Linked DNA regions of Homo sapiens. The protein of the gene in region 1 binds, or shares a complex with, the protein of each later gene. Each region holds a gene or a part of one and is shown on either strand. Other genes may lie near its edges. The genes, in order: YWHAQ and CFTR. A codon is read from its position in the direction of its gene.

Region 1 (2,847 bases):
GAAGATCCACTTAGTTTTAACATTCTGTCTAATTCAAGAACCCTGTCTATACATGCACACATTGCTTCCCTGTAGCTTCCATCACCCACTTCTATTTAATTCTTGGAGAAACACAAAGTAAGTCTGCTTTTCCTATAGTTTAGCCCTTCACACACTTGAAAATTGTTAACCATGATTGTGGCTTTTTCCTCCCTGTGAAAATGTTTTGCTTTATTAGTCTGTAATAATAATGCAGTAGTGCTTTCAAGAAGAGCATTGGGCTGCTGGGAATAGAGACTATCACTTTGCTTATTCTGAAAGTAGAGTGCCTTTTTAAAAAAGTTTCTCTTTTTTTTTTTTTTTTTTGAGAAAGGATCTCACCCTGTTGCCTAGGCTGGAGTGCAGTGTCATAATCATGGATCACTCCAGCCTCAACCTCCTGGATTCAAGCAGTCCTCCTGCCTCAGCCTCCTGAGTAGTTAGGACTGTAGGCACACACCACCCCGTACCTGGCCAATTTTGTTTTTGAAATTTTTTGTAGACGTGGGATCTTGCTATGTTGTCCAGGCTGTTGAACTCCTGGCCTCATGCGATCTTCTCATCTTGGCCTCCCTACGTGCTGAGATTACAGGCGTGAGCCACTGTGCCTGGCCAAATGCTTTTTAAATAAAAAGGAAGCTATAAAACCATGCTCCAGTGGTATATGTATGTATGTATGTATGTCATTTTGTAAGTGCATAGTGAAAGGTCTGCAAGGATGTACTTTGGGAAGGTGATGGTCTTTGGGGTTTTGAGAGAGAACTTCAGTCTTAGTCAAGATCTCCATTGTTTGAGGAATTTACTACTCTTGTAGTTAATTTTGATATAACAATACTACTTAGTGTAATTGCCTAATCTAGAAATAGTAACTTAATATGATTCTTCTTTTTCTAGCTTTGGACATCAGACAGTGCAGGAGAAGAATGTGATGCGGCAGAAGGGGCTGAAAACTAAATCCATACAGGGTGTCATCCTTCTTTCCTTCAAGAAACCTTTTTACACATCTCCATTCCTTATTCCACTTGGATTTCCTATAGCAAAGAAACCCATTCATGTGTATGGAATCAACTGTTTATAGTCTTTTCACACTGCAGCTTTGGGAAAACTTCATTCCTTGATTTGTGTTTGTCTTGGCCTTCCTGGTGTGCAGTACTGCTGTAGAAAAGTATTAATAGCTTCATTTCATATAAACATAAGTAACTCCCAAACACTTATGTAGAGGACTAAAAATGTATCTGGTATTTAAGTAATCTGAACCAGTTCTGCAAGTGACTGTGTTTTGTATTACTGTGAAAATAAGAAAATGTAGTTAATTACAATTTAAAGAGTATTCCACATAACTTCTTAATTTCTACATTCCCTCCCTTACTCTTCGGGGGTTTCCTTTCAGTAAGCAACTTTTCCATGCTCTTAATGTATTCCTTTTTAGTAGGAATCCGGAAGTATTAGATTGAATGGAAAAGCACTTGCCATCTCTGTCTAGGGGTCACAAATTGAAATGGCTCCTGTATCACATACGGAGGTCTTGTGTATCTGTGGCAACAGGGAGTTTCCTTATTCACTCTTTATTTGCTGCTGTTTAAGTTGCCAACCTCCCCTCCCAATAAAAATTCACTTACACCTCCTGCCTTTGTAGTTCTGGTATTCACTTTACTATGTGATAGAAGTAGCATGTTGCTGCCAGAATACAAGCATTGCTTTTGGCAAATTAAAGTGCATGTCATTTCTTAATACACTAGAAAGGGGAAATAAATTAAAGTACACAAGTCCAAGTCTAAAACTTTAGTACTTTTCCATGCAGATTTGTGCACATGTGAGAGGGTGTCCAGTTTGTCTAGTGATTGTTATTTAGAGAGTTGGACCACTATTGTGTGTTGCTAATCATTGACTGTAGTCCCAAAAAAGCCTTGTGAAAATGTTATGCCCTATGTAACAGCAGAGTAACATAAAATAAAAGTACATTTTATAAACCATTTACTATGGCTTTGTAACAATTGCATACCCATATTTTAAGGGACAGGTGAATTTACTACTTTCTAAAGTTTATTGATACTTCCCTTTTATGTAAAATGTAGTAGTGATACCTATATTTCCACATTGTGCATTGTGACACACTTGTCTAGGGATGCCTGGAAGTGTATAAAATTGGACTGCATTTCTTAGAGTGTTTTACTATAGATCAGTCTCATGGGCCATCTCTTCCTCAGATGTAAATGATATCTGGTTAAGTGTTATATGGAATAAAGTGGACATTTTAAAACTAGCAAAGTTAATTATGTGATTGTGAGTGCCTTGGCTGTTATTAGAATTGTGCTTCAGTGGATATTCAAAAGGAATGTAAGAGTTCAGACACAGATACTCCTCAACTTAAAATGGGGCTACACCCTGATAAACCCATTGCAAGTTGAAAATACGAAGTCAAAACTGCACTGAATACACCTGACCTAATGAACATTATAGCTTAACCTATCCTACATTAAATGTGCCCAGAACACTTAGCCCTACAGTTGGGCAAAATCAAAGAACATGAAGCCTACTTTATACTAAAGCGTTGGATCTCTCAGGTAATTTGTTGAACACTGAAAGTGAAAACCATTGATTGTATAGGTACTTGAAGTATGCTTTCTACTGAATGCCTGTCATTTCCACACCATTGTAAAGTCAAAAAATTAAGTTGGGGACTCTATGCTTCTGTTTGTAAACATTCAATCTTACTATTAGTGAGTTCAAAATAATTTTGGTTTTATAGTATCACAATAGCTATTATTTTACTAACCAATCTCAGATTAGTAAAATAACTGAGACTGAATGACTTGAGAACTGATTTTT
Region 2 (7,316 bases), on another chromosome or scaffold:
AATTAAAGACCGAACTACAGAAGCTAAAGAGAGCTGATCAAACTAAAAAAAAAAGTTAAAGGTAAAGAAACCAACTTTAGTATAAATCATGTTCCAATTAAATTACAGCTCAATGGGTTATGAAAATGCTTAAAGAAAATAAGAAGACACATGAACCAGAAGAGAGCATTAAAAGGGTTTTCTTTTTCCTGGAGATATTTTTTATAATGATGTTTGTTCTGACAGGAGTTGATCATACAAATTTTATAGCTGAATAAATGTGTGTGGTTTGGGAACATGAACACTGTCTCAGAGAACAAGGAAAGAAACTTAAGCAAAAAGTATAATTTTAAAAAGAGTATAATAATAGTGTTGCACAGTCATTCCTAACTTGGGTTTCTAAACCATCTACAAAAGCAGTGGTGAATGAATAATTTTAAATACAGTAGTACAAAAATACTTTAAAAATTCAATGATGAAGCTATCCAGACCAACCATATAGTCTGATTGAAAAATATGCATTTGATTTTTTAAACAAAAATGAGTAAATGTGCATCATTTCCTTTAATTTCTCAGTCCCGCTGCAATGGGATTTGTGCCCCTGATATGGTATTAGCACATAAGCATTACTATAATATTAATGGCTCTGCATTCTAGAAAACCAAAACAAGAGAAATAACACAACTAAAATGTGGTCTTTGTACACACTAATAAAGTATACAAATGTGTGGCAATATTTATCAAGCAGAAAGACAGAAGGCAATGATAAACACTTTAGGAATAAGAAAGGTGCTATCACTAAATAATGTGAAAAAAATTTAAATAATAGTATGAAAATGTTATGCTGCTAAATTTGAGAACCCAATATAAGGAAGGAGTTCTTAATCAAGATACCAAAAGCACAAAACATAAAGGAAAAGACAATAAATTGAACTTTATTAAACTTAAAAGCTTCTTTTCATCAAAAGACTCTATAAGCCAAGCCACTGACTGAGGGATTATGTTTGAAATGTATAGAGCTGATGATCAATCCATAATTCATAAATTCCTACAATTTAATTAAGGAAGAAAAAACTAGGTGACAAATGAGTAATCAACATGAATAAGAAATTAATGTAAGAGAACAGCAAAAGCCAATAATTATGTATGCAGCTTCCCTATATTTTTAGTAATCACTTCACATCTACCAGACACCAAGTGTTGTTGAAGATACATAGCTATGAGAATTCTTGTACTCTCTTGATGGGGATATATATCAGTACAACAGACTTGAGGACAATTTGGCACCACTCAGTTAAGCATGGGTGAATCCTATGACCCAGCAATACAACCCCTAGGTATTTCTCCTAGAAAATCCTGAATAAGGAAACAGGTGAAAGAATGCTCACTGCAGTATTAGATCTTCATAGTGGCTATCTATGAGAAGGAAAGAAGAGATAAGGATTTAATGACAGATACACAGTGACCCTCAATTTATCTGTAATGTTTTATTTCTTAAGCTCAATATACGGTATATAGTTCTTCCTCATGCTATTACTCATACTTTGTTACTTGTCTGAATTTTTTTCATAAAAGTTAAAAAGATGATAAGACTTACCAAGCTATCCACATCTATGCTGGAGTTTACAGCCCACTGCAATGTACTCATGATATTCATGGCTAAAGTCAGGATAATACCAACTCTTCCTTCTCCTTCTCCTATAGATGCACAAAAGACGTAAATGAACCTCATGTTATTTCTCTCTTCTGTGAACGACTTTATTCACACTTCTCCTAGGGCACATATCACATTAAATTTACATTTCAATTTTATGCTAATTTTAACAATTTTTAAATCTCAGTTCATCACAGCATCTACTAATAGAATAATGCTCTGCATATAGTAAGTATTCAACCAGGATTTTAAATCAAAGAGCGATTGAATATTAGGAAAGTGTTGCCCTTTTTAAAAAATGTTACTGGTATTGGAGGTGTTGTTGGTAATGGGTAGGTACCATATTTGTCTCTTCTACTATTATTCTATAAGTAATAACGGTAACATATATTAGAATGGGCAATGGGGAAAAGAGATCCTGTATCCAGATGAGCTGCTTTACAAAGAGACCAAAAGCAGGGGAAGAGTGTCCAAACAGCATCTGCAAGATGTTTAGGTGTGTTCTGTGCCTTTGCAAGGAGGACCTTTGCTAATTGCATGCTATTGGGAAGTAAGTGGACTTAGAATTTCACCGGACAGTCAGAAAACTAACAGTTCTGCCATTTGGAAAGAGAAAAGATTACCCTCTATGCAAAAAAAAAAAAAAAAAAAAAAAAAGATTACTGTACCTGGGAAGAACAACACTTAAGTGTTAAATTACAGTAATTTTTTTTTTAGGGCTAAAGAGGACAGCTAATTAAAATTCATGTGTTCAGTATTATGGCCATAGAAATTCTCTAAGAGGAATGTTCTTAAATTATTATAAAGTTAGACTATCAAGTCCCAATCAAGAGTTCTTACATCTGTAATGCATGATAAAATTGTCAAAAGATTCTACAATTGGGAGAAATAATTCATCTTATTATTAATTGAAATTTTTGTTTCTGCAATTCCTCTAACAGAAGGCATAATATACACAGCATATATCTGCATGTAGTATTAAATTATTTTCATATAGGCAAGATTTATCTAGACCCCAATATATTACTGTTCTGAAGGTTAAGCTGAGAAGATAAAATTTTAATAATAAGTCAGATAACATTTATTTAGTATTTACCATGGACCAGGCACTATACTAAGTGTTTTGGACAAATTATTACATTTACTATTCACCCCACACCTATGGAATAGGTAATATTATTGTGTCTATTTACACTTGAGGAAAATGAGGGGCTTAGATAGTTAATTAATGTTTGCAAGTTAACACAGCTGAAGACCAATTGAGCCAGGGATAATAATAGCTGGGTGGCCAACATCCACTCCGGCTGAGCATCTGATTTGATTGGTAAGTTCTGTACTATAATGATTGTTAAATGTTTTGATTATTGCCCCTAATAAATCAAGACTCAATCACACTCAACCATGTTATAGCATGTGTTATATTGGTTTGAATTAATTGTTAACAAATCTTCATTTATGTAATTCAGCCTTCTTTGATCTTATTTTCAAATAACTTAAAAGAATTTTTTAAAGTTGCTTAAAATTACAGTACTGATGAGGATTAGTACATTTGCCTGCCCATGTATATTCCTTTCATAGAGTCATTTCCCACTGCCCTAGCTGAGAGAACAACAAAGGTGGTGAACCCACTATCCTCATAGCAGCAGAGTAGACTGCAGTTGGACCCCTGAGCCAAAAGGAAGCTGTTTTCTGTTCTCTCCAGGACTTTGAGTTTGTACAGAGGAACTCTCCTGTAAATTCAGGAGGCCAGAATGGAGACACTACATAAAGTCAATGTGGCATAGCCCTGGTAGACCAGAAAAACCAGTCTTCAGAGAGAGAAAGGAATGAAGCAACCACAAAAAGGAATGGACCCAGGACAGATATAGACTCAAGAAGAAGAGCTGCAGCTGACTCTCTTGTGCCTGTTGCAGCTTCTTTAAGAGTCGAATGGCACCACCTTCTCGGTGTTCCATGAGGCCTTTCTGTAACTCCAGCAAATGCCTGCTTTCGGTTTGAGTAGAATTCTGTTCCTACAATCAAATGATCCTACAGATTTGGCATTGATTTGGCATTTGCTCTGCCAGTATTCACTGTCACATATAAGAAGTTATTTCAACACTTATCATAAATACTCAGAAATTCAAATTCTTAAATTAGAGAAACAAATTTACCTACATAGATTTTTATTTTACTTATTATGAAATACTTTGTTTTTCACTAAAGATCCTAAAATCAATCCAGAACATTTGTATTTGAAAAACATGGCACTTTCTTTTCTTCTTTTTCTTTTGAAAAATGTGACACTGTCTTTCTTTTCTGTGACAGTTTTTCTTTGTGTAAAACTCACAATTAGATAACAAATTTTATCTAGTAGAGATTTAAAAAAAACAAAACTTACCGACAAGAGGAACTCTGTGTGTGTGTGTGTGTGTGTGTGTGTAAATGCGGATGTTTCATTTCCCCTCTTTAGGAATCTATTAATTTTGAAGCTAGGACCCTTCACCAATATGAGTATGAAGAGGTGACATATTTCCCCTTCAATCACAGAATTGCTATCTGACAATCTGTGTGCATCGGTTTTTAAAACTGTGAAAACAGGGATAATACTATATATATATATGTATATATATATATATATATATATATATATACATATATATATATATATCCGATTTCAAGGAAATTATTTGTTTAACAATAAAACAATGGAAATTCAAAGAAATCACTTGTTCAATAATAAACCAACAAATTTGTTAATTACTAAACTCTAAAGATATCAAAAATTGATAACCTATAGAATGCAGCATTTTATTCATTGAAAATTTTTTACTTAAATGCTTAGCTAAAGTTAATGAGTTCATAGTACCTGTTGTTAAAATGGAAATGAAGGTAACAGCAATGAAGAAGATGACAAAAATCATTTCTATTCTCATTTGGAACCAGCGCAGTGTTGACAGGTACAAGAACCAGTTGGCAGTATGTAAATTCAGAGCTTTGTGGAACAGAGTTTCAAAGTAAGGCTGCCGTCCGAAGGCACGAAGTGTCCATAGTCCTTTTAAGCTTGTAACAAGATGAGTGAAAATTGGACTCCTGCCTGTGAAATATTTCCATAGAAAACATTGCAAATAACATAAACACAAAATGTAATTTCATAATATCTTGTACCTGAAAAAGACTAAATTAGAATAATCATATCACAAATGTCATTGGTTAAAAAGCTTTTTTTCACACTGGTGCCATTCTTTGAATAGATATGATTTGTTATTTTATTAATGAGTTACCCTCTTTTTTTACTTGGCTACCAGAGATGGGAACTTAAAAAATTACCACCAATATTTATTCCTCTTTCTTGGCTACCACTGGGAGTTTTCTGGCTAATTCTAAATTAATTCTTACTAAAAAAATTTTCTTTTAAGACAATTTTTTCAAGTATCTAAATTAAGGAAGTTTATGTGACTTGATTTAGCTAATAATCTACAAAGCAGAAATATACTGAAAAAGTATTGCCTGAAAATGCACCCACACTAAGGCTGTCACTGCAAAATGTGATTCCCTAACAGCTCAAGTAGAGTTTGGGGGCACACGAAATGGCAGCTCCAACACATGAAGAAAGGGTGTCTGAAGACAACAAGCCAAAGGGACAAATTTGGTCAAGTATCATTTGGGAACCCAGAGAAACCTTTAGTAATAGCAGCACTATCCTTGTTTAATTTGACTGATATAAGTTTATTATAAATGAATGTCCTGTACACCAACTGTGGTAAGATTCTATATACCTATTTTAAAACCAAAATGAAGTCACATGGTCATTAATTAAGAAAAAAAATCCATGTGTACTTTGTAATATAGTTTCCTTTTATATACACATGCATGTAGAAAAAAATTATTGTTATATGATGTAAAAGTTTAAAAGCAGAATTTTTTTTAAGTAGATTAACAATAAAGAATCTCAAATAGCTCTTATAGCTTTTTTACAAGATGAGTATCGCACATTCACTGTCATACCTTCAGATTCCAGTTGTTTGAGTTGCTGTGAGGTTTGGAGGAAATATGCTCTCAACATAATAAAAGCCACTATCACTGGCACTGTTGCAACAAAGATGTAGGGTTGTAAAACTGCGACAACTGCTATAGCTCCAATCACAATTAATAACAACTGTAAGATCAAAGAAAACATGTTGGTGAGTAAACATTTTCACATTGCAAAGTGGACAAAGTGTGTCAGTGATTTATTTCTTTTTTTTTTTTTGCATACTTTAAACACCTCAAACTTTTTTTTATTTTTTTTATTATACTTTAAGTTTTAGGGTACATGTGCACATTGTGCAGGTTAGTTACATATGTATACATGTGCCATGCTGGTGCACTGCACCCACTAACTCGTCATCTAGCATTAGGTATATCTCCCAGTGCTATCCCTCCCCCCTCCCCCCACCCCACAACAGTCCCCAGAGTGTGATATTCCCCTTCCTGTGTCCATGTGATCTCATTGTTCAATTCCCACCTATGAGTGAGAATATGCGGTGTTTGGTTTTTTGTTCTTGCGATAGTTTACTGAGAATGATGTTTTCCAATTTCATCCATGTCCCTACAAAGGACATGAACTCATCATTTTTTATGGCTGCATAGTGTTCCATGGTGTATATGTGCCACATTTTCTTAATCCAGTCTATCATTGTTGGACTAAATACTCTCCCCATTCTATTCCTAGTCAGAAAGTAGCCATTTGCAAGTACATTTTTCATAGGCTCTATGAAAATTTTAAAAATTGTTTAGGTCACTGATAACATTTTTGAAGTTTGAAAACATGGTGTTCTTTGATCTTTGGATATTTTCATTTCCCAGACACTTTAAAGTATTGCATGATAAATACATTTTAAGTGAATATTAATTTAAAATAAACTATTTTTAAATAATTTTAGTATGAAGGTGAATCTTAGGATTTATTTTGGTTAGACAGTTTTTGAAAGCTGGGCATTCGTCTTGGAGTCTTTTGATTCAGAAAGTTCTGCTTGAAATACAAGCTTGTCATTTAGGCAAGCTATCTAACCTTTCGGAGCATATTTTCTCATGCTTAACATTGAAATAAATCATACTTAATAAATTTCTATATTTCTACATTACACCAAATACATACATTTTTAAAAGGTACAAAGTCCGCTAACATGTACTTCACAATAATCCATTTGAATAAAGTATAAAGTAACTGTCTGCAGAAAGGATTAAAAAAAACCACTTTATAATATCCATATGCTGTTCAGTGAGCCAGTTCTCTACCCGTTACCATAAGTGACACATGTATTTTCAACTGATATAACTTTAGAACTGAAAGGGACCATTATCAGGTTTATATTCCCCATTCTACAAGTGACAAATCTGAGACCCTTCAAGATAAGTGTCTGCTCAAGGTAAAATAGTGGGAATCTGTAGAAAATAACCAAGATTTTCAATTTTCACTATACAGTGCTCCAATCCGGAAAGCAAATTTGTCAGAACATTGTCAAAGTTAGAAAATAGAATGAAGATTACATGAGGTATCAAAATACTCAAACTCAAAGAAGCAAAGAACAGAACCATGGGTAACAGGACAGGGGAGAGAGGGAAATGGGGAGATACTAATCAACAGGTATAAAATTTCAGTAGTGCAAAATGAATAAGTTCCAGAGATCTGCTGTGCAACATTTACCCATGGTGAACAATA

Evidence for each region.
Region 2: the proteins of YWHAQ (region 1) and CFTR are in contact, whole or in part, in a crystal structure (PDB 7QI1), measured with the Homo sapiens proteins. Residues at the interface, in NP_006817.1 of Homo sapiens: Asn38, Arg41, Asn42, Ser45, Val46, Lys49, Arg56, Arg60, Glu113, Phe117, Lys120, Arg127, Tyr128, Glu131, His164, Pro165, Ile166, Gly169, Leu172, Asn173, Val176, Glu180, Ile217, Leu220, Asn224, Leu227 (codon at 913), Trp228 (codon at 916); in NP_000483.3 of Homo sapiens: Arg764, Arg765, Arg766, Gln767, Ser768, Val769, Leu770, Asn771, Leu772, Met773, Thr774.

What each region holds. Positions count from the first base shown.
Region 1 is NC_000002.12:9,583,411-9,586,257, reverse strand, and holds the end of YWHAQ (14-3-3 protein theta), read left to right. Parts: intron 1-912; coding exon 913-972; 3' UTR 973-2,291; downstream 2,292-2,847. UniProt on the Homo sapiens protein: Adapter protein implicated in the regulation of a large spectrum of both general and specialized signaling pathways. Binds to a large number of partners, usually by recognition of a phosphoserine or phosphothreonine motif.
Region 2 is NC_000007.14:117,608,974-117,616,289, reverse strand, and holds part of CFTR (cystic fibrosis transmembrane conductance regulator), read right to left. Parts: intron 5,772-7,316; coding exon 5,621-5,771; intron 4,710-5,620; coding exon 4,482-4,709; intron 1,678-4,481; coding exon 1,577-1,677; intron 62-1,576; exon of another isoform or gene 1-61. UniProt on the Homo sapiens protein: Epithelial ion channel that plays an important role in the regulation of epithelial ion and water transport and fluid homeostasis. Mediates the transport of chloride ions across the cell membrane.